Regions from separate parts of the Homo sapiens genome. Here regions 2 and 3 are each linked to region 1. Evidence: fine-mapped expression QTL. A gene starts in region 1. Each other region holds a variant in brackets. All regions are shown on one strand. Distances are from middle to middle.

Evidence for each region.
Region 2: its variant is fine-mapped to the expression of ACP6 in stomach (GTEx, PIP above 0.99).
Region 3: its variant is fine-mapped to the expression of ACP6 in hypothalamus (GTEx, PIP 0.99).

What each region holds. Positions count from the first base shown.
Region 1 is chr1:147,665,609-147,673,791 of GRCh38, forward strand. ACP6 (acid phosphatase 6, lysophosphatidic) reads right to left here and starts at 4,916. Exons shown (of 10, transcript NM_016361.5): 1 at 4,222-4,916. The coding sequence starts at 4,440. RefSeq lists enhancers at 3,764-4,707, 3,919-3,978, 4,619-4,868, 5,309-5,378.
Region 2 is chr1:147,715,898-147,724,080 of GRCh38, forward strand. All of the region lies in intron 2 of LOC105371230 (a long non-coding RNA gene), which reads right to left. The region is part of intron 1 of LOC102723321 (a long non-coding RNA gene); the gene reads left to right. Among named protein-coding and RNA genes, the nearest start is that of GJA5, 41 kb to the right of the region's middle. The variant A/T (reference allele first, on the strand shown) is at 3,998.
Region 3 is chr1:147,627,654-147,635,836 of GRCh38, forward strand. It overlaps a transcript of ACP6 not described here. Among named protein-coding and RNA genes, the nearest start is that of ACP6, 39 kb to the right of the region's middle. The variant C/T (reference allele first, on the strand shown) is at 3,585.

The DNA of each region.
Region 1 (8,183 bases):
ACATTGAAACTCCTTTAAAGGCAAGACTGAATTATCCATCCTTGTAGTTCCAGTGTCCACCACAGGGCCTGACACAAAGCTCCACAGGGCCATTCAGCCTCACTAAGAAATCTGTTAGGCACATTCACCAAGAGAGGACCCTTGGCGTCTCCTAGGAGTCTGGAGTCCAGGTCACGTCAAGTCTAAAGTACAGTTTTCAGATTTTCAAGAATGGATGATACATCAGTTTCATATAATAGTGTCCACCCCACATACACACTCTCATTCTCATTCCTGCTCTTAAGCTTCCCAGTTAGTGGCAAAGACTAACTTGATAATTTTACTTATTTTGTGTATACCCCTCTTCAAGGGGTAATAAAGTAGATATAGCAAAAATTAAAATATAGTAAGACAACCAATTCAAAGTAGGCAAGAAAGACAAAAGCAAACAAATGTAGGGACAAAGAAATGGATGCAGTAACACGGTTACTAAAATATGTACACCATGAAGATCTGTTTACTTACTATAGGTGGGCCACAGACTTGGCACCCAGCTTCCTGACTTTTACATAAAGAAACAAACTTGATCAGCTAGACTAGTTTAAAGAAAAAAGCAAGCCAATTGTTCAGGAGAAGCACACCATTCCTAATGCTAACAGACAAATTCCTCCCAAGGGTCCTCATAAAGAGGATAGAGTAATATAATGAACATCTTTTCAGCAGTCACAGCAATGAGTTCTGTGGGATTGTTTCTCCTAGTTCTCTCAACACAGAAAGATAACCTCTTACCAAAGCACATTTCAGCGAAGGCAATTCTGTACTGGGATTGATATACTACATTCCAGGTAAAAGAACAAATCTACATAAAAGTAAACAAAAACCTCCCAGGTGTAGATTTTAAAATAAAGCAATCATATTAAACCTTGTCTGTATACTGGTATTACCAGGACATTTTTTAAAAGTTACTGATGCCTGAGTCCCAACCTGGGATAACCGCATTTGGATTATCCCCCAAAAAAGTGGGGCCTCCACTTTTTTAATGCTCTTCAGTCCAGATAATTCTCAAGCTTCACCAGAGAGTCTTTTACATTATCTGGATACCCCGGACCAATTAAATTAGAATCCTTCGGAGGGAGACCCTGGCATGTGTATTTTTTAAAGCTTTCCAGTTGACTCCAATGTTCACCACGGTTAAGAACCATCGATCCTGAAGAATGGGTGGACCTCATGTAATGCTTCTTGAATACCGCTTCTTTTAGCTGAGTTTTGGAAAGGTACTAAGCAATAAAAGATTCTTACATTATGCTTCCCAGCTCATCTATATTGTCAAATAAATAGGGACCCAAATGTCTTAATCAACAGTGAAGCTGGGGTAGGTTGGACTTTATTTTATAAAAACTGAGGAATCTCCCTGGGTGGAGGCCATCTTGACACCCAGGGGAGTTGAGGGAAGCCTGGAAGCAGTGCCAAATCTTTTCTTTTGATAGTGCATTTGGATCTGCTCTAATGATCAGGAAAAAAAATGGCCAATCAAGTTCTATATTTTTATTTCCAAAGCACAATCTTTTAGCAAAACAGGTTAAACCAACAGCCATTCAAGCCATAAGAAAACAACCCAATAAAACACTAGTTTTTTGTTTTTGTTTTTGAGATGGAGTCTTGCTCTATCACCCAGGGTAGAGTGCAGTGACCCAATCTTGGCTCACTGCAACCTCCGCCTCCCGGGTTCAAGCAATTCTCCTGCCTCAGCCTCCCGAGTAGCTGGGATTACAGGCGCCCACCACCACACCGGGCTAATTTTTGTATTTTTAGTAGAGATGGGGTTTCACCATTTTGGCCGGGCTGATCTCGAACTCCTGACCTCTTGATCCACCTGCCTCAGCCTCCCAAAGTGCTGGGATTACAGGCATGAGCCACCACACCCAGCCAAAACATCTAGTTTTAAATCATGCTACTTTCTGAGAATTTGTGAGATGGCTGAATGAAGTGACTTGTCACATATATTAATCTATAAACCAGTCAGAAATCAGGAAACATGTACCAAAGACAAAAAATTTTTGCCAGGCAGTCCCTTCTGACTATAATTAATAGCAGAACCAAGAAGATTAAAAAATCCCAATAACGGCCGGGTGCTGGCTCACGCCTGTAATCCCAGCACTTTGGGAGACTTGAAGCAGGCGGATCATGAGATCAAGATATCGAGACCATCCTGGCCAACATGATGAAACCTCGTCTCTAGTAAAAATACAAAAATTAGTCGGGCCTGGTGGTGTGCACCTATAGTCTCAGCTACTCGGGAGGCTGAGGCAAGAGAATTGCTTAAACCCGAGAGGCGGAGGTTGCGGTGAGCCGAGATCGCGTCACTGCACTCCAGCCTTGCAACAGAACAAGATTCTGTCTCAAAAAAAAAAATCCCAATAACAACCTCTATCAAATTGGATCTTGAAATGAACACTGGACAGAGACTATCCAGAAACAAGTTTTAAGAGGCTAATATTTGCTCATAGCCTAAATTGAAAGAGAGTTGGTTCACCCCTGATTTTCATGCACACAACTTTATACTAGAGAGCCGAAGACGTTTAAAGCATCTGTCTAAAGTCTGGAGAATATGAGCAGAAAGGAGAGGTAATATGCCTTCTCTAATTGCAAAGTCAGGCCATGGATTCAGATGCTATTTTGTGGCTACACAGATTGAAGATGAATGAAGCTGGTATCCTAAGCTACAACGGACCTTTCAACCATAAAGGCAGAAGATATCCATCACACACCCACTCTCCCTTAGGGATAAAGCCCTAAAAGAATCTAAATCTTTTCCTAGTGCCTTCAGGATATATATATATATATATATGGTACATACTAGGTCTAGGCCTACACATTCAAAGTTTTACTCTCCATTACCACTGATAATTTTTTGTCTTCTACGTGAATATAATATATATTCCTACATGTGATTCCCCAGTCCTTCTGTACCAAGAATAAATAGAGAAGAATTGGGGGAAGGGGAGCATCAGAGATGGGCTGTATACAAAATCATAAGGAAAATTTAGTGATCTAATATAAAAAGGCAAAGTAAGAGACTGAAAAAAAAATCAAAGAATCAAAATGAAAGAAGAAATCCCGGTTCCAGAGAGCAAGTGGTAAAGCCAGAGTAAGGCTAACTAGAAACCTGGTAATAGAATTAAGTGCCTTCCAAATGTATTTATTTATGTGGAAAATGCTTTAGAAGTTTAATTTCATGTGCGGCCAACCTTGAAAAATGGGTTTCCAGTTGTACAATGTAAAGACACAATCCTGAAGGTTTCTAGAAAGCAACTGTTATTATGAAGAGTATACCTAACATCAATTTTGGACAATCTTTTCGACCTCCTCCAACATCAACCTGGAAGACCAACGATACAAAAGCACTCCACAGGTGTAATACCTGGGAGTTTGGGGATTTCAGGTTGCCTGTTCCTCTTCACTAGGCCTTTCTGCTATAAAAAGTCACATCCAGGAAAGATAATCATTTTTTTTTAAACTATTTGTGCTTTAGTCATAATTATCCTGACAAAACCAGACAGATTTTTAAAACATTACTGCCACAGACTAGCCCATTTTAAATTTGTTCCGACCTCAGATCCCTCCCACTATAGGTTTAGTAACCTTAAATAGAAAAGGAGAACCCTAGAATACAACACTTGTTACAAAAAAAAACTTCAGGAGATCTCAAATGGCCTCCAGCAAACCCTGAGAAAAAGCAGTTATAAAGTTTGTTTCCAAAGGCAACGACCTCTTATCCACTGTAATCTCAGTTAAGAGTGGTTCCTATCACTAAAGTCCCTTCAGCCCTTCAGCTCTGACAAACCACCTTCAAAATGGTCACACAGAAGTGCACTGCACCCTTGTATTCAAGTTCACCTAGACCCTTAATAGAAATGCTGACCTGGGGCACTACTCCACACCTGCTGAATCAGAATCTGCAACGTAGCAGGATCCCCAGGCGACTCCCATGCGTCTTAAGCAGCGCTTACTGATGGCTGCGCCATCAGGGCAAAACTGGAAGTTCCGGGGCTGTCCTAACCCCAGCAGGTCCTTTGCTCAAGAGCCTGGGGAGTCACTGGCTACTGCTGTTTTCCCTTCTTCTGGACCCAACCCGAGCCCCGCTCCGCGCGAGTAAAGCTCTGAAGATGTGTGTCAGGGCGAGACTCCTGGCCTGGCACACGGTCCTCGCCCCACCAGCCCCAGCCCGGGCCGACCTCTCACCTGCTCCTCCAGCGGGAGCGGCTTGAGAGGACTCCGAGCCCCGTGTCGAAACACGACCTGCACCATTTTCAACTTCAGCAGGCTGCGGTCGACCGGACACTGGCCATCGGCCTCCTGCAGCTCGGCCAGGGCCACCCGCCGCTGGTGCAGGCAGTACGCCAGCGAGGTCAGGACGCCCACTGGGGTCCACAAGCGCATGCTGAACACACCAGTGATCATGGTGGTAGGCCCTCGCTGCCCTCCGGGTTGAGGCTGCAGGAGGCAAACACAAGTCTTCTGCGGGCGCCGGGGCTCAGCGGGCGCCCCCAAGTCCGCGGGAACCTGCGGATGCGTACATCCAGCCCTTCAGCAAGCAGGGACCGCTGTGCCTCCCGGCCCTGAGGGAGACCCCGAGTGGGAACGGGGGAGAGAACAAGAGGTGGCAGCAGCGAAGAGTCCCTGGGAGTTTTAACCCGGGTCGGGGTTGGTCGCTCCTGCTGCACACCGGGCCGGGGGAGATCGGATCCTTATCTTTTGCCCGACGAGGAACATTAAACTTGTATTTCAAGTTTGGCCTCCAGCACTCTTGAAGGAACAGGAGCCGGCCCTGAGTTCCCTGGCGGCAGCGGCTCCACCAGCAAGGACTACTCGATTCCACTTTTCTATAAGCAAGCTCCTACCCACCTCCTCACCTACTCAGGGACCCGTCCCAAGTGGACCCGCGCACAGGAGCACGGGAAAACGAGTCCTGTGGTGACACCTCGCCTGGAGACTCAGAGCTGCGGAAACTACAACTCCCACAAGGCTGCGCGTACCGCGGCTCCCAAGAAGTGGCTTGTACCCGCCCCCCTCGCCTGCGGGCCTCGCCCCTCCGGCCCAGCCAGCCGTTTTCCAGGCGTGGATGGCCCACGGACGTGCCTGGTCCGGCAGTGGAGTGGTAGTGAATCTGTCGGGCCATGGAGTTTGCCAGGCAGGAGGATCGCGAGCGCAGGAGTAGAACTGGGTGGTGGAGGGGAGTAGTTTGAGTCTAGTTTTGAATGTAGAAGACTTCCTTCCAGTCCTGGAAGCCTGGTTGCTGCAGCGAGGAGCTGAGACACCTGCCGAGTGATTGCCATTTGCGAAACACAGCACTAGGTGCTTTATATTTAGTCATTTACTACTCCCTTCTCTGTTTTTAAAAAAATTCTCAAGCTTAAGTCATTGTAATCATGTAGAACTTTCAGGTCACTGATGTGTTTACTTCCATCCAGAATACTTCTTGTGGAAAAAGCCAGGCCTTGCCTGTGGGTGTCCCAGTGATTAAGAACCTAAGAGGCGCCATGGCTCACGCCTGTAATCCCAGCACTTTGGGAGGCCGAGGCGGGTAGATCATGAGGTCAGGAGATCGAGACCATCCTGGCTAACACGGTGAAACCACGTCTCTACTAAAAATACAAAAAAAAAAAAAAAAAAAAATTAGCCAGGCGTGGTGGCGGGCACCTGTAGTCCCAGCTACTCAGGAGGCTGAGGCAGGAGAATGGCGTGAACCCGGGAGGCGGAGCTTGCAGTGAGCCGAGATCGCGCCACACGACTCCAGCTTGGGCAACAGCGCAAGACTCCGTCTACAAAAAAAAAACAAAAAAAAACCTAAGAACACAGAACAATGCCAGCCTTACCACCTGCTAGTCTGGTTTCTGTTGATATACAGGTATCCCAAGCCTGTGTTTCCAGATCTTTGCAACAGGACACAATCTGGGACCCACTATGTGTCTATCTCCAAAGATCAAACTGGGCCAGATGTAAAGACAACATACTTACAGAGCATGGCTCCTGGCCTGAGAACAAATTCTGTTCACCAAGCTGGAAGGTTCTGAGTGCTCCCCTCCCTGATGCAGGGAGGAGGGTCATTTTGGAACACTACATATTGTCACAATTTTCTCCCTAGCCCAGCCAAGGGACTCACTTTTCAGAGTCTTATTGTGTGTGCTGATGTGATTAAAAATCGAATACTGTTTGCTATGGACTCAGTTGTGTCCCCCGCCAAATTCGTACCCACTAAGTGACTGCATTTGGACATAGGACTTTTAGAAGGTGATTCTGTCAGAGGCATTTGAACCATAGTGACTCCATCTTGAATAGCGGCTGGGTAAAATGAGGCTGAGACCTACTGGGCTGCATTCCCAGGAGGTTAGGCATTCTCAGTCACAGGATGAGGGGGGAGGTCAGCAGGACTGGTATCACAAGAAACCAGTCAAAAAGACCCTGCTGATAAAACAGGAAGTGGTAAAGAAGCTGGCCAACACCAACCAAATGCAAGATGTTGATGGAAGTGACCTATGGTCAAACTCACTGCTCATTTTACGTTAATTATAATGCATTAGCATGCTAAAAGACACTCCCATCAGCACTATGACAATTTACGAATGTCGGGGCCAGCAGTTACCCTATATGGCCTAAAGTGGGGAGGAACCCTCAGTTCCAGGAAATCCCACTCCTTTCCCAGAAAATTCATGAATAATCCACCCCTTGTTTGGCATATAATTAAGAAATAACCATAAGTATTTTCAGTTGAGCAGCCCATGCCCCTGCTCTGTCTATGGAGTAGCCATTCTTTTGTTTCTCTTTTTCTCTAATAAACTTGCTTTCACTTTATGGACTCGCCCCAAATTCTTTCTTGCCCGAGGTCCAAGAACTCTCTCTTGGAGTCTGGATCAGGACCCCTTTCCAGTAGCAATTTTGGTTAAGTGAAGATATAAATGTGAGGTCCTAATCCAGTAGGATTGATGGCTTTATAAGAAGAGAAAGAAGGATCTCTCTCTCCACACAGGAGATCTGATGGTTTTATAAGTTTTTGGAAATTCCTCCTTCTTTCTCCTCTCTGGTCTGCCAACTTGTGAAAAAGGTGCCTGCTTCCCCTTCTGCCATGATTATAAGTTTCCTGAGGCCTCCCCCTGTCCTCAGCCATGCAGAACTGTGAGTAAATTTACTCCTTTGTTTATAAATTGTAGTATCTTTATAGCAGTGTGAAAACGGACTAATACAGCAATGGTCCTGTCAGGGCTCATGTGTCCTGTTGGAGGGGGAGTGTGGGGAAGTGTGGGGAACAACTTAGCAGCAGATCTCCAAAAGAAACCAGAGTGAGGGTGGAAAATAGCTGATTTCATGTGGTTGTTAAAAGCACTGTTTGTCAACACATGTGAGACAAACCATGGGGAGTCCAGATGTATTTTGTGTGTGATAGTAGTGGCAGTGAGCTGCAATTTAAAAGAGGCTGGGCCGGGCGCGGTGGCTCACGCCTGTAATCCCAGCACTTTGGGAGGCTAAAGCAGGCAGATCACCTGAGGTCAGGAGTTTGAAACCATCCTGGGCAACATGGTGAAACGCTGTCTCTACCAAAAATACAAAAATTAGCCGGGTGTGGTGGCACACATCTGTAATCCCAGCTACTCGAGAGGCTGAGGCAGGAGAATCGCTTGAACCTGGGGGCAGAGGTTGTAGTGAGCCGAGATTGCACCACTGCCCTCCAGCCTGGGCGGCAAAGTGAGATTCCATCTCAAAAAAAAAAAAAAAAAAAAAAAGAGAGAGAGAGAGAGAGAGAGAAAGAGAGAGACTGGAAGTCCTGACCCAGGGTAGGACCGTGTGGGTGGGGGTGTTAGGGTGGTTGCAGGAAGCAGGGGAACACTGAGTAGCTGTTATTTTGACCCTGGTTTTAAACTACCAGGCAGGGATGGCTCGGGAAATAAGCCCTTTCCCAGCCAAATTGTCTTCAGAGGATTGCATTTAATATTATGTAAAAACTCAGTTTTAATAATGAGATTAGATAAGAAACAACCACATTCACATTTTTTTCCCCAGTGGTGAGCACAGTGCCTGGCTTGTAGTAAGTACTCCATAAATACTTGCCAAATGAAATTATAGGATATATCATAGGAATGTTGTTGAGCCATTGCTCATTACATCATTTATTGCTTCCTTTATAAATCTCCTCCTGAGAAATTTGGTTT
Region 2 (8,183 bases), 50 kb after region 1:
TTGTCTCAGGTGAGCAGAGCGATGACTTAGAGTTCTGTCCTTCGTCCTACCTGTGAGGATAAGCTATCAATTTACATTGTCAGGGTAAAACTCAACAGAACCCTTTTAGGGTAAAGATCTTGAGGCTCACAAGGAATTTCGTAGTGGTCAAATCATGAAGGAGGTATGTGGCTTTTTTATCTTTGTAACTATCTTATTTAGGAATAAAATGGGAGGCAGGTTTGCCTGATGCAGTTCCCAGCTTGACTTTTCCCTTTGGCTTAGTGATCTTGGGATCCTGAGATTTATTTTTCCTTCACAAGATGTTTATTTTTAGTCTCCTTGTTCCTGGAAAGGGGTCCCAATCCAGACCCCAAGAGAGGGTTCTTGGATCTCACTCAAGAAAGAATTCGAGGCAAATCCATAGAGTAAGATGAAAGCAAGTTTATTAAGAAAGTAAAGAAATGAAGAATGGCTACTCCATAGGCAGAACAGCCCCAAGGGCTGCTGGTTGCCCATTTTTATGGTTATTTCTTGATTATATGCTAAACAAGGGATGGATTATTCATGAGTTTTCTGGGAAAGGGTTGGGCAATTCCGGTAGCTGAGGGTTCCTCCTCTTTTTAGACCATATAGGGTAACTTCTTGGTGTTGCCATGGCATCTGTAAACTGTCATGGCGCTGGTGGGAGTGTAGCAGTGGACTATCAGAAGTCACTCTTGTCACCCTTTTGATTTTGGTGGGTTTGGGCCGGCTTCTTTAATGCAGCCTGTTTTATCAGCAAGGTCTTTATGACCTGTATCTTGTGCCGACCTCCTGTCTCATCCTGTGACTTAGAATGTCTTAACCTCCTGGGAATGCATCCTAGTAGATCTCAGCCCTATTTTATCCAGGGCCTATTCAAGATGGAATTGCTCTGGTTTAAACACCTCTGACATCATCATGCTAGGTGGTTAAGCTCCTCGAGGGCAGTGATTTTGTCTATTTTATTGACTGTTCTATGTTTAGTGTCCAGCACAGTATTTGGCACATAGCAAGACTCAAATATTTGTTAAATAAATAATTGAATATAAAGCTCTGCAAAATTCTGTCTACCTTCCCTGATTATTAATCTGGAGCAGCTTCTATCTCTTAAATTGCAAAGAGCTGCAGCTCCAGTCAACTATTTTCACTGCTCTGAGCATTCAGTGACCCATATTTGTTTTCTGACTCAATATATATAGTGCATTTGCTGGAGTGAAGAACTTCCTGATTGAAATCTGATCTTGTAAGGTACCTGGATGTGCTCTGGTGAACAGTAGGCTGAGGCAGACATCCGGGCTAGAGTGACTCATAGAGTTTAGGGTGCAGGCGCTTACTCCACCTGTTATATAACCTGTTTGTGTAAGCTCATACCTGGCTTGGAGCCACTGTTGTTTGAAAAGGTATAATTGTCCTGCTGATGCTGTACACAGGGGACATGGCTTGGCTCAGCTCTTGGGCATGGCTCAACATGGCTCAGCACACTGGCACCCAGAGAAAGAGAGAGAGAGCCAAAGATGTCTGTCTTGCAGGCAGGCAGGTGGGAGCCAGGAACCAGCTTTTGCCCAGAGAAAGAGTTAAGCTGCTGACCCTGAAAGCAAGGGAGAGTCAGCCGTGCAGCTCTGCATGGAAGTGGCCGGCTCAAGCAGCTGAAACAGAGCATACAGTGTAAGAGAGCTGCTGATGAGAGAGCTACTGAATAAAGCCATATTTCACCTACACATGGCCGCCCGAAGTGTTCTTTCAGCTATCCACCCACTCCCCTCAGACCTAAGCATGGGCTGGACCCTGACCCTGGATCTAACAATTGGTGACATTGGCAGGATGAGGTGTGGTACCCAGTGGCAGTGGTGCTGCTTGGATGGGCCCTAGTGGAAATGTGAGAGGCAATGGACAGGGCCCCCATGAGTATGGGGAAGGCCCTGAAGTACCTGGAGGTGCACAACACCAAGGAGGAACATGCCTTTGCCAGCAGAGTCAGATGGGCGTTTGTGACTGTGCTGCAGGAAGTGCACGCCCAATCCCTGTGAGACACAGTGCAGGGAGGAGGAAGAACTTCTGTTGCAGGCTTGCCCAGTGATCCGTCTGAAAATAGAGCATGGACAGCTGTTGGGCCCCAAGGGTGAGCCCAGGGACCCTCCCCAGTTGTGATGGAACACATTTCCTATAGTCCCGGTGCCCCTACTGAGTTGTGGGAGTTAAGCAAGTAATGTCGGCAGTCATGTACAGACTTAGTGCAAGTCATTCAGGAGAAGGACGTTGCTGTGCAACCCAGTCCCACCCAAGTGCTCCGGTTCAAAAAATACCTGCTGCAGTCAGGCAAAAGTGTAAAGCCTTTTCTGTTTGATAAGAGAACTGACCAAAGTGCCAGGATGGGTACATTCATGGGTAACAACCCCCCGGACTGGGAAAGTGGTTAGCAACTGCATATGCTGCCCTTCGGGCTCATAAGAGTGTGGCAGGATGGGCTACAGTCATCGTCTGGATGACTTACCCAATAGTGGGATGGGTGCATTCATGGGTAACTACCCCTGCCAGACAGGAATGGCACAGACATCCACTTTAGTGAAGTGGGGTGTCTACTTGGAACAGTGGAGTACTCTGAGTACAAGTCCCTTAGCAGTAGAGGTTTTAGGGCCTGTAGTCCTAATGCAAGATGAGGCCATGGGGCCTGAGGCACCCCTAGACCCTGAGCCATCACTGTTTAAGGAAGGGTGCCCTCCCATTCCTGATAGGGCATGGTACATAGCTAGGTCTAGCCAGGGTGCTACTGCTGTCTGGACTGCTGGTGCAGTCCAGCCTAGTTCTGACACCACATGGTTTGAAATCAGGTGTAGACAGAGTAGCTAATGAGCTGAACTCAGGGCAATGTAAATGGTAATCACCAAGGAGGTGACACCTAAGGTAGTCTGCACCAATAGCTGGGCAGTTTATCAGGGCCTATGTATGTAATGGGCCTGTGTGCCCAGAAGCCTATGTTTATGTATCAGGCCTGTGTGTCAGGCCTGTGTTCCCAGGCTTATGTATCAAGTCTATGTGTGTATATTGGGCTTGCATGCCCAAAGCCTATGTGCCAGGCTTATGTGTCAAGCATATGTGTATGTATCGGGCCTGTGGGCCGAAAGCTTATGTGTCAGACGTGTGAATCAGGGGCTTATGTGCCAAACCCGTGTATTGGACCTATGTGTCTAAAATCTATGTCTCCCTCAGCTTAGGGGGTGGAGTGTAAAGTACATGGATGTGCTTTGGTCAACAATAGACTGAGGTGGACATCTGGACCAGAATGACTCAGCAAGTTTAGGGTGCAGGCGCATACTCCACTTTTTATACAACCTGTTTGTGTAAGTTCGTACTTGCCTTGGAGCCACTATTGTTTGAAAAGGTATAACTGCCCTGCTGATGCTGTGCATGGGGAACATGGATCCGCTCAGCTTCTGGACATAGCTCGACATACCTCAGCAAACTGGTGCCCAGAGAGAGAGAGAGAGCCAAAGCTGTCTGTCTTGCAAGCAGGCAGGGGACAGCCAGGAACCAGCTTGTGCCCAGAGGAAAAAAGAGTTAAGCTACTGACCCTGGAGGCAAAGAAGAGCCGGCTACACAGCTGTGCATGGGAGTGGCTGGCTCAAGCAGCTGAAACAAAGCAAACAATGTAAGAGAGCTGCTGATGAGAGAGCTACTGAATAAAGCTGTATTTCACCTACCTATGGCCCCCACAAGTGTTCTTCCAGCTATCCACCCAGTCCCCTTGCATGGGCTGGACCCTGACCCTGGACCTAACAGATCTAAAAACAAATTTCCCTCATTGGAACCACCACCACCAACACACACATAAAGTTAGAGTCATTTTTTGTTTGTGTTTTTTTGGATCATTTTATGCCCACTGCAGATACTCCAGTATATACAAAAATAATAGTGTCAGAGGCGTTTGAGCCAGAGCAACTCCATTTTGAATAGGGGCTGGGTAAAATAAGGCTGAGACCTACTGGGCTGCAGTCCC[A/T]GGAGGTTAAGGCATTCTTAGTTACACAATGAGATAGGAGGTTGGCACAAGATGTAGGTCACAAAGACCTTGCTGATAAAACAGTTTGCGGTAAAGAAGCCGGCCAAAATCCACCAAAACCAAGATGGTGATGAGCGTGACCTCTGGTCGTCCTCATTGCTCATTATATGCTAATTATAATGCATCAGCATGCTAAAAGACACTCCCACCAGCCCCGTGAGGGTTTACAAATACTGTGGCAATGTCAGGAAGTTACCCTCTATGGTCTAAAAAGGGGAGGAACCCTCAGTTCTGGGAATTGCCCACCCCTTTTCTAGAAAACTCACGAAAAATTTACTTTTTGTTTAGCATATAATCAAGAAGTAACAATAAGTATAAGCAGCTGAGTGGCCCATGCTTCTGCTCTGCCTATGGAGTATACATTTTTTATTCCTTTACTTTCTTAATAAACTTGCTATCACTTTACTCTATGGACTTGCCCTGAATTCTTTCTTGTGTGAGATCCAAGAACCCTCTCTTGGGGTCTGGATCGGGACCCATTTCTGGTAACAACAGGGTCTCACCCACAGTGTCTTCTGGCCCTGCCAGGCCCTCCAGCTAAGCAGGGAATTATACTAAGCAAGAGGAGCAAGTCAGCGAAGGAGCTCTGGGGCTAGGGCGGCTGTAAGGGCTCTAGGGGCACATGGCGGCTCTATGCTGTGGCCTAAGAGAGGCATTTTTAACATCTGGGTGGTGACCCTGCTGCCATCAGAGTTCAGGAATTGCTGAGAGGAGAAGCAGCACCTGTTCTCTGGGTCTCTGCAGTGGCAGCAGCTGAGATGGTAATAGGTGTGCTGATGCCTGAGGAAGTGGAATCCCAGCTGAGGGAGTGGTCAAGCGCTGGCAGCAGCTGCGAAGGGCAGGGGCCCAGCTGGTTAAGGAGAGAGCCCTGGCTTCTCCGCCTTCACAGTAATCCCTTCACCTGTGCTCTTGGGCCCATCCTGACTTTTCCTCACAGTCTCTTGCTTCAACCACTTCCCCTACTCATTTCAGGCTTCCTCCTATTCCATGGTCTTTCTCCCCTCAGCCTGCAAATATGCTTTGCTCTCCCCTTTTCTAAAAACCTCTTCTGTCTCCTGGGACCACTTCTCTTAGGTCTTAGCCATCCCTCAAAAAAACAAACACACAAAACCATACTCTTCTACCATTTAGTCCTGTTTCCAACCAACAGCTATAGTTGCATTTGTCTTTCCTTAGCAAACATGTTAAATGAGCTATCCATATACCTGGCCTTCCTCAGCAACTTACCCATTTATGAATTTATGCAATAGGCAATGTATTGAGGACCTACTATGAATAATAGACTGGGAATAGAGGATAGATTACGGTTTCTTCCCTCAGAGGAGTTCTCTGCCTAATAGAGGACATAAATGGGTTAAAAAATTTACAGTATAATGTGATAAGTACAACAAAGAAGGGAAGTACAGTGTTCAGAGGTATAATAACACAAAAGAGAGAGTCATCGACTAGAGAGAAGACAGGCAGAGATCGAAGATGGTTTCCTGAGGGATGTGGAGTCTGAACTAGATTTCGAAGGACAACAGGAAAATGTAGGGGAAAACACAGTTTCTTGGAAGCTGAATAAGAGATATCAGTCAACTTCATCTACTGCCACAGAGAGATGACATAAAATGAGGAAAACACACAGATAAATTAGCAGCATGGAGGTCATTATGGGACTTTGCCGATAAATCAAAATAGAGAGGATTGCAGTGGGATGAGAAGCAAACAAGGTGTGAGAAGGTAGAGGTTTTGGCAGAAGCCTAGCTGAGATGGGAGAGCATTGTAAGGCAGCAGCTAGAGAGAAGTGCAGGGTGGGAGGAGAACTGCCAAGGTTGAGAGAGAGACATACCAGTTGCCAGCTCCTTAGGGATGTCACAAGGAATCAGTGAGTTAATACACGTGGAGTGCTTACACAATGCCCAGCACACACTCCATAGGTGGTGTGGCCAGAATGCAAATTCTCATGCCTGGGTGCTAATCCCATGCTTATTTCATTGCATCAGGAAGGCCTGGGGGGAAATTTCCACATTCAGAGAGTTCTTGGGTAATGGGGAGAGATGAGAGAGATTGGGTAGTGCCATTTGAGGCCAGTCAGAGGTCTTATGGCTCATTCAGGAGACACAAGGCTCTGAGCTTCCTATGTTCTGACAGGGTCAAAGTTTCCCTCACCAATTCTCCCCACATGGCTTCTTAGCCAGACTTCTTCAAAGAGGCTGATCGCAAACCACCTTACCTCATGACAGCCCCCCAGACATCCCTGCATGCCTCCCAGCAGAATATTTCAGGTGGGCAGCTTAGCCATCAGGGGAGGGGACTGCAGCTGCTGAGGACAGCTGAGCTCCAGTCCTTGCTGTTCTATTGGCTGCCCAGTGAGTGGAGAAGGTGATGGGGGTGGGGCGATGTCCTTAGGGAGGAGGGTTAGAGGAAGCTCCCAGATGGGACACCACCACAGGAGGCTGTGATCACACTGACTGAAGGAAGTAGCAGGTCCCATTCAGTCCCTGACCTGGGGACAGTCTCAGAAGGGAACAGTCTCATGAGTCCAATTTTAAAGAATTGCTGAATTGTCTGAAATAATGGATTTGGAATTTTTTTCCACTTGGGATAGTAAATTCCACCAAGAGAGGAAATAACTTATAAATGATTAACATTGGCATAAGTTAATATTTCTGATTGCAGGACCTTGTCAAATGGAAGGCCGCGTAGGATTTGGAGAGGGGAGAAAGGGAAAAGAGAAAAAATACTCTGAGTAGGGGACCCTGCTAATGAGAGAGCAAGCCTGTTGGGTGGTAAGGATTGAAGTGGGGATGATGGGATGAAATCTATGAGGGTTCAGGGGGCTCCTAGAATCCTAGGAATATGGAGGATCTGAGGGGAAAGAGAATACATTGGTTGAGAACATACCATGTGCCAGGTACTCAGCTAAGCAGAGTAGATACAATGAGTAAATCTAAGTTTCTGACCTTTCAGAATCCACAGTCTGAGACTGAGGGGAAAAAGGTACATTTCAGTAGAAGGTGTGAACCACTATGGTGGTTACAAGCATGGCACTGAACCAGCCTGCTTGGATCTGAATCCCAGTTCTGCCACTTATTAGTTGTATGGCTTTGGGCGAGAGTCTTAACCTCTCTGTTTCCATTTCTCCATCTATAAAATAGGGATAATAGTAGTAGCTACTCATAGGGTTGTTGTGAGGAAAGAATGAGTTAATACACATACAAAGTGCCTCAACCAGTACCTGGAATAAAATAAACACTATTGTAGGGTCCTCCAACTTCCCCCACTTTTTCTCTGGTCCTGCCGGGAAACGTAGAACACTTGCACCACTCTCCCAGCCAGATATATGTTTTCTCCTGCAGGCTTGAACCCAAGTGGGGCCCTTGAACATTTCCAGGCACCGATAAAGGTGTTTGCATTTTTGCCCAAAACCCTGAAAGAGACTAGCCCCAGCCCCGAGTCAAACTCCTTAAACCCTCTTATAAGCTCCATACCCTGACTTTCTCATTGCAGACATACCTAGGTAGGACATCCCTTGTCTCATTGTCCTTCGGGAGGATGCTCTCCAGCCCCCCTCTGTAATACAGTTCACCTGATACAGTAAATGCTTTTAACTAATCACCTTGACATTTTAGTACTTCTTTCTTTGGAATCCCAACTGGCCCCATCCTGGAATCATTTGGGGCAGTCCCTTGCAGGAACTCCTCTGCCCCTGCTTTTGGGTGACTCCAGCTGTGGGTTCAGCCACAGAGGCTGACATCAGGTTTTGTCACAGAGGCAGGCATCAGGTACTATGGGAGAGGTGACCAGAGAAATCTCAAGAGGCAAGTTTGTCCCCTACACAACCGGGAATTTTTCTGTGCCTTTGCCTTTGTTTCCCTTTTTCTTTCCTAGGTCTCTACCGAATCACTTGCTTCCTCACCCCGCCCTGCAGGGCCAGTGATGTGCCATCACAAGCCAGTGCAGTAAGTGCCTGACACTCCCAATGCCCCTTTGATAAGGAAGGCTCTGCCTCCAGGAAACAGAAGCTGTCTTTATCTTTTATTCCTGTCCAGTGTGCTTTCCTTCAGCCATCTCCTTTAATCATCCACATTGTCCACCTGAGCCCCAGTTCTGAGGTCCTTTCCCTGGGACCCTTGAGGTTCTC
Region 3 (8,183 bases), 38 kb before region 1:
GGATGTGTGGCACTCCTCTCGCAGCCCCCTGCTGGAGAACTTGGGGCAGTGCAGATCAACTTCCCCACCTGAGTTTTTAAAATACCCCATCATACAACTTCATTCACTTTATCAGCACATGCCATTTCATCACGATAATGTCTGACAAGCCAAATTTAGGGTCTAAATACAACAATTTATCATTTACTAAGATTGTTATAAAATAAAATTACCTTTAGAGAGACTGGATGCTAGTGCATGGAGAACTGATGCAAGATTTTTTAAAAATCAGTGGAAGAGTGATGAAAGATGTTTCATATTAACATATTCCTGTGAAAGCCCAGCCAATCTTCTCTCTTTCCTCTCCTGAAGTTTGGGACTGAATGGAGAAAATGCAGTAGTGACTTGTTCACTTCAGGGGAAAGTGGTGGAGTGTGTGTGGCTCATAGCATTTGTTAAGGACTAACTAGAAGTATGTAGCATTTTCCCTGAAACAATGTAAAATAAAATAATTTACTTTAGAAACGATTCTGCACTTATACATGAAAACAGACATAATTATAGGGGTCTTATGAAGGAGGCGGCATGAGAAAATAAATTGAAAACAATTTTACATATTTAAAGCTACTCCTTAAAAAATGGATCCAACATTTCTCCCAGCCTCCCTGCGCTCTATACTTCTTGATATTATCATCACAACGCAACTGTGGTCATCTGTGCCACCTGTGCAGTTGGACAGGACTCCGGCTTGGTTTAATGCTCCGCTGTCACTGTTTGGAGTTCTTAATTATTGAATAGGGGCTCCACATTTCCATTTCGCCCTGGGTCCCACAGATTGCTTAGCCAGGCTGTTGTAAACAGAAATCACAACAGCTCCACAGAGGTGCTGGGACCTCAGTCTCCATATTTATTCTTTCTCCTTAACTAGTGGCCAGGAGCACCTCAGGCAGGGTACTTGCTGTGTTCCGCTTAAACTGTCTACACTTCAGTCATTTCCTTTTCCTTTTCTGAGTAATTTCAGGGTGCTGAAAGGAGAGGGAAGTTGCATTTTAACCCGAGGACTCATTATTTAGCAAATATTTATAGAGCACCTACTGTGTATCAAGAACTGTGCAAAGGCTGGGATGTGGAAACAGGTGTGTAAACCAGTTATTGCGATGTAATATGATGATTGCTACAGTGAAGGTGTGGACAGGGCGCAATGGGCCAGAAAGGAAAATTCAATGAATCCTCAAAGGAAAGGTGATTTTTTGAACTGACTCTTAAAGGAGAGAGCATTCCTGGAGGATGGTGGTGAGCACTGAAGCAGAGGAAATGGGAACAGCAAGGGCTTGCTGATGGGATGGCCTCTTTAAGGGAGGAAGAAGTAAAGAAGTAAGAAATAAGCCTAGGCCGGGCGCGGTGGCTCACGCCTGTAATCCCAGCACTTTGGGAGGCCGAGGTGGGCGGATCATGAGGTCAGGAGATCGAGACCATCCTGGCTAACATAGTGAAACCCCATCTCTACTAAAAATACAAAAAATTAGCCAGGCGTAGTGGCGGGCGCCTGTAGTCCCAGCTACTCGGGAGGCTGAGGCAGGAGAATGGCGTGAACCTGGGAGGCGGAGCTTGCAGTGAGCCGAGATCGCGCCACTGCACTCCAGCCTGGGCGACAGAGCGAGACTCCGTCTCAAAAAAAAAGAAAAGAAATAAGCCTAGAGAGAGAGTGGATCACAGAGAGCCCAGTGTGGCCCACTAAAGAGTTTGAACTTCAAAGTTTTAAGCAAAGGATCAGGTGATCAGATTGTGGAAGATAGCCTGGGGGCGGGGTGAGAGAACCACAGGAAGATCACTTGCAAAAATTTGCTTATTCTACAAAATCCTCAGACTCATCTCTTTTGCTTGAAATAACATTAAATTGTATCATATTTCCCATGCTGTTTAGGCAACTTGAGCCTCACTGCCACTTTCTTTTCTCTAACTCAGACCTGTAATTTTTTTCAAAGTCACAAACCCTTACATTTAAGAAAAGTCATGGAATCCTAATTTGGTGGTAAGATTTTAATAACACATTTAAAGCAATAAGTATATAAAGCACAAAACCAGTGGGTGGCCAAACATTTCCTATTGGAGGGAGCTAAATCATAAAAATAATGTTAAAAGGAAGGTATGCTATAAGGATTGTAATAAAAGTTGTCTCTATTTAACATGGCTTCTTATTTGGGTTACTGTTAAACAGACACGAATCTATTTTCTGCCTATAGGTGACCCCACTTCAGCTGTTAACTTTCTGTCTCAGTGCTTAATTGTGCTTGGTAATCAATACTGTCAGAGGAAGACGGTGAGTGTATGTATGACCATAGAAAGAGAAAATAAACAGAAGAACCAGAAATTATTTCCTCACACATAGTTAAAGCATGGGAAAATTCAGTTATTTCACCAAACACGAAAGAAACCAGATTTCTCTTGCAAAATACCTGCTTAGTGTCCACGAACAATTATGTGGGTACCCTGGGGTTCCAAAGAACAGGTTAAAGAGACCCAGCCCTAGGAAACTGCATGTCTTCACCGGGGCCAGCTGGGCGTGTTGCTGTGTGGCTCTGGGCGGCTGGGTTTCTCATACCTCAGCACCTGCACCTAGACCAGCAACTCCCTCTCATGAGGGGCTGACCCGCAGCTCTGTGCTAGCCACACTCTTCCATTCTCCAGAGGCTGGAGCCAGGGTCAAGGGCAGAAACAGCTTACAAATCTCAGTTATATCCAGTGTCCAATTAATTAGTGTTGAGGGTGAATTTAGTTTTCAATAATCTTTTTGTTTTCTACAGCCGAAGTTCTCTTTATTAAAGACCCCAGGAGCTCATGTTTGTTTCTCATCTTTACCAAGCTTCCAGGAGCTTTCATTTTCCTCACTTCCCACATAGAAGCTCAACAGCTACCCCATGAGCTGTTTTCCCTGGAGACTCCTGCCCATCCCCATGAATCAATCTGTGATCTAAGGCCACGCTTTTGGCGGTGCTTTACGGGCTCTGGAGTACTGGCTTCTGGCTGCTCGGTTCTCAGCGTCAAATGAAGACAAGGGCTGCGTCTGGCACCTTGCTAGAAACTGAGTCATTGTTATTGGGTTCAGTCAAAATGTATTTGATTACAGGGGATGGTGGATTACTGTGATTTATTTTGTTCTCCAAACTGCAGAAGATCTCCTGGGCTTTGGTAAAATTCTCTAGGATAGCTGTGAGTAGTCGAGCTATTGAAAACTTTTATACACACATATACACATACAGATTTACTTATACACATGTATATGTACCTTAATATATGAAAGTATGTAAATAATTAAATGCCAGTTTTGAAATGTCAACACTGCAATGAAGAGTAGTTTGCTTTTTCCTTGTCAATGAGGCTGGAAAAGCCCTAGAATTTTCTTCATTCCTGTTATGCTTGCTACCTGCAAGTCCTTTAAAATAAAATCATCATTATTTAAAAGTGTGATAATACCAATGAGGAAATACAAGGATCACTTCCATACAAAGGAAGAACCAGGCCCAGGAGAGAAATTATCTGACAGGCACCTCAAACTTAACATGTCTTAAACTTAACCTCTGAATTTCTCTCACATCTTATCTCCA[C/T]ACCCCACTTCCCCATCACAGTAAATGACATTATATCCATCCCCTAGTTTTCATATCAGACACCTGGGACTCATTCCTAATTCTTTACTCCTCATGTAAAACCATCAGCAAATCCTTTCATGCCAATTTCCAAAACATATCTTAAATCCATGCACTTTTCTTCATCACTCTAGATGAAGTTACTATCTTTCACCTCATTTATTACGTGTTTGTTTGTTTTTTAACCAGTATTTTCACTCTAGCTCTTCAGTCTATTCTCCACAATATAAACAAAGTAACCTTAAAAAGTATGAATTGGCTGGACACTGTGGCTCACGCCTGTAATCCCTGCACTTTGGGAGGCCGAGGTGGGTGGGTCACAAGGTCAAGAGATCGAGACCATCCTGGCCAACATGGTGAAACCCCGTCTCTACTAAAAATACAAAAATTAGCGGGGCTTGGTGGCACACACCGGCAGTCCCAGCTACTCAGGAGGCTAAGGCAGGAGAATCGCTTGAACCCAGGAGGCGGAGGCTGCAGTGAGCTGAGATCGTGCCACTGCACTCCAGCCTGGGCGACAGAGTGAGACTCTGTCTTAAAACAACAACAACAACAACAAAAAAAACAGTATGAATCACACCACTTTCTTCCTTAAGACCCTTTCATGGCTTCCTAATGTAATTAGTATGAAACCCAAGATTTTTGGCAGGACTGCCAGGCCCCAGCGCCTCTCCAGTTTTGCTTCATGCCCTTCCCCCACCCACTGTGCTCCAGCCGAACCATGCTAATTTCAGTATCTCCAGCGTGCCAAGGCCTTCTTGCCACAGGACCTTACCCACACCAGTTCTTTGGCCTGGCATACTTGACTCCAGGCTTTCCCAATGGCTGGCTTCTCCATGCCCCTCAGGTCTCAGCTTATTTGTCATCTCCTCAGAGAGGTCTTCTCTGAGTACCCTGTCAAATACCTACCTATGCCCAACACACACACACACACACACACACACACACCATCATTTTGTATCACGACTCTGTTTGTATCCTTCATAGCAATTATGTATTTTATCTTGCCCACTGTGTGAAGTCAGGAGCCAAATTTTTCTTGCTCATCACTTGTTCACCAGCATCTGGCATAGTGTCTGCACTCTATCAAAGATCAGTAAATAGCTGTTAAATAAATGAGAGGGAAGAAGGATCCATATGAGCTTGGGTGGCCAGGAAAGATTTCATGCTGGTTGTGGTACATGAGGTGGACCCTATAATGAGGCTGGGGGTGGAGGACACACAGAGAACAACACGAATGAGGAAATGGCAGTGGGAATGGACGGATAAAGAAAAGCAGGCCAAATGACAGCGAAGGGAACAGCTTAAACAAAATTGATCATGTGCACAATAGAATGTGAAATTGAAAAGGGAGGGAAGAATGAATAGCCCCAAAAGCCAAGAAAAGGAATTTCATCTTGATATGGGAAACAATTGGGACCCACTCTTTGGTCTTAATCAGAGGACTTACATGCTAAGTGTTTTATCAAGTGAGTCTGGCAGGGGCAAGCAGGATGGATTGAAGCAAGGACAGGCTGGAAGAGCTGACTGGAAGCACGCACCTATTCTGGGGTTGAGGAGGTGAGGCTCCTGGCGATTCAGTGGAGAGTAAAGGGTGAAGCAAAGACAGCTGTGAAGGAAGAACCCCCAAGACTTCATTGGATAATGGGGACAATCACTGGAGAAGAGGTAGGAATCAAACACGATGTGGTGATTTTGAGACTGAGAAGCTGAAAGAAAGGTAGAATCGTGGTGTTGGAAGAGGCCATCCTACTGCCCTAAGTATCCCTGACAGGTGGCCAGCACCTCCACTTGAGCCGTCCGATAATGGGAGCCCATTCTATTGAACATCATTAGCTCTAATATTTAGAAAATTCTGCCGCCTAATGAATCAGGCTTCTTTTAGTTTTTTGCCCATTCATCCCAATTCTGACTGTAGGAGTAAATACAGAATAAGAGCAGTCCTTCTTTCTCATCCCAGCCCTTCAGATAGTTGAAAACAGTTATTACTTCCCTCCTAATTTTCTTTTTCCCAAGCTAAATGCCCTGGTCCATCAATTAAGACCAATGAGATCAGGTTTTGAGTTCCCTAACTGCCCTCATAGTTTTATCTTGTTTTATCACAGTTTACACATACCTTGAAAGAAGAAATAAAGTGTTTGGTGCCCCAGTACTATCTGATCAGCAGAGAGCACAGTGAGACTATTACTTTCTTTTATCTGAGCACAATTTCACTAATAGGCAAAAGTTTCTTTTTTTTTTTTTAACTGCTATGGAGTTATATTGGAATTTTAGGAAATGAAAACCCCAAGATCTTTTTCATGTAAAAAAAGTCATCACTCCTAATCCTGTGTATTATTTTGCTTATTTTTATCCTATATTCAGAATTCTAGTTATTCCTATTTAATTTCAATATTCATTCTGATCTGTTGTTCCACAGTCTGAAAGTCCTTAGAAACTTATTCTAACAATCTTTATATTGGTTCTAACTTTTCTATCAAAAGCAAAGCTGGTAATATTTTCATCAAAGTGATACAAGAACCCAGGATAAAAACCTGGAGCTCATAACTGAGGTGCTTTTTTCACCCATTTAAAAAAATTGTGGTAAAAAAATACAGCAAAAAATTGACCATTTTAACCATTTTTAAGTATACATTAATGTGTTATGGCTTTAAGTACATTCACATTGTTGTGCAATCATAATCGCCATCCATCTCCACAACTTTTTCATCATGTAAAATTCTAACTTTGTACCCATTAAACAATAACCCCATTTCTCCCTCTGAAGTTTCTGAGGAATTGCCATACTGTTGTCCACAAGTGCTGCACCATTTTGCATTCCCACTAAGAATGTACAAGGGTTCCAATTTCTCTAGATTCTTATCAACATTTATTATTTTTGTTTGTTTTCTCATTGTGGTTTTGGTTTGCATTTCTCTGATGAGTGACGTTGAGCATCTTTTCATGTGCTTACTGGCCATTTGTGTATCCTCCATGGAGAAATGTGTATTCAAGTCCTTGGCCCGTTTTTTGATGAGGATTTTTGGTGGTGGTTGTGTTGTAGGAGTTCTTTAAATCTTCTGGATATTAATTCCTCATCAGATAAATGATTTTCAAATATTTTCTCCCATTCCATGGGGTGCCTTTTCACTCTGTTGATTGTGTCCTTTGATGCCTAAAAGTTTTTTTTTTAATTTTGATAAAATCCAACTTATCTATATTTTCTTTCCTTGCCTGGGCTTTTGGTATCATATCCAAGAAATCACTGTGAAATATAATGTCATAAAGCTTTTCCCCTGTGTTGTCTTCTAAGATTTTATAGTTAGAGCTAATCTTTAGAGTGACATCAATTCAGAAATTTTTAAATGTTTTAAATATACTTGTGTAATCACTTATAATTCTACCTCTTATCATCCAGCTCACATTCTCCATCTACCTATTGAGTAATTGGCTCTTTGATTGATTCATCAGTCTCTACAAGGCTAGGAACTGTGGATGCAGCAGTGAACTGGTCAGGAGTGGTCCCACCCTGAGCTCATCAAACCCAGAGTCTATTGAAGAAGTCAAACACTGAATAAGCAATTATAAGCACAGTCATGGCATGAAAGAAAAGGAAGCTGCCCACATTGAAGACAGGGAAGTGCAACCTAAAATATTTTATCAAATTTCCTGAGAATCTTCTATCTACTGGTCTGTTAACCCAAAGGAGAAAGGAAATAGTTCAGCCAAGTACTAATAATGATTGCTGCTTTCTTTCCTAAGTGCTCCACAGACTTTTCCTTTGTTTAAAAGTCCACTCTAGACCAAGGAGCTCTCCAGTCCTTAAATTCTGGAGTCTATCATTTTATGGGTTTTAAAAACTAGGGCCACATTTGCCTTTGTATTTTGGTTCTTTGAGACTAGAAATCTGAGAGTATCTTCATTTCTCATAGATTACTGTCTGAAGTGACATCTATAACTTAACTTTTTATCTACTCCAGGGTATTACCTACCAAATAGGAAGATCCGAACTCATTGACATCAACCAGGTGCTGTCCTCACTGCTCTAAGATTTCAATCCCTCCCAGCAATCTTGGGCCATTTGTGGCTTAAAGGTAGATTCTGTTGTTAGGAAAGACTTACTAGGAAAGAGAGGGATTTGGATTTAACTGCTTTCATTTTCTCTCTCTCCTCTATTAAATCTTCTCCCCCAGACGCTGAGCCTATCTTTTACTTCTTCATTACTTTTTTTCTCAGAATACAGCTTAAGAGCCCTTAGCTTCCTCTTCCTGTCCCAATCTTGCCCAAGCTTCTAGTATTATCATGAGTAAAAATTAGGGAAGTTGGGGAGAAGTCCTTGTTGGGGTTGAGGGAGTGTTGAGTATGAAATGATGAAGTGGTGTCTATGTGTGGACAGTTGGAAATAAGAGACAGGGATGAATGAGCAGTTTGGACTAGATATGGAGATGTGAATTCCTCCACATGGAGATGAATATAGATTATTTCTCTATGGGAGTGAGAGAATAGAGAGCCAAGTGGAGGGCCAAGAACTCAGTCATGAGGGATTGGCACAGTCCGCAGGCAGGAAGAAGTTCCAGCAAA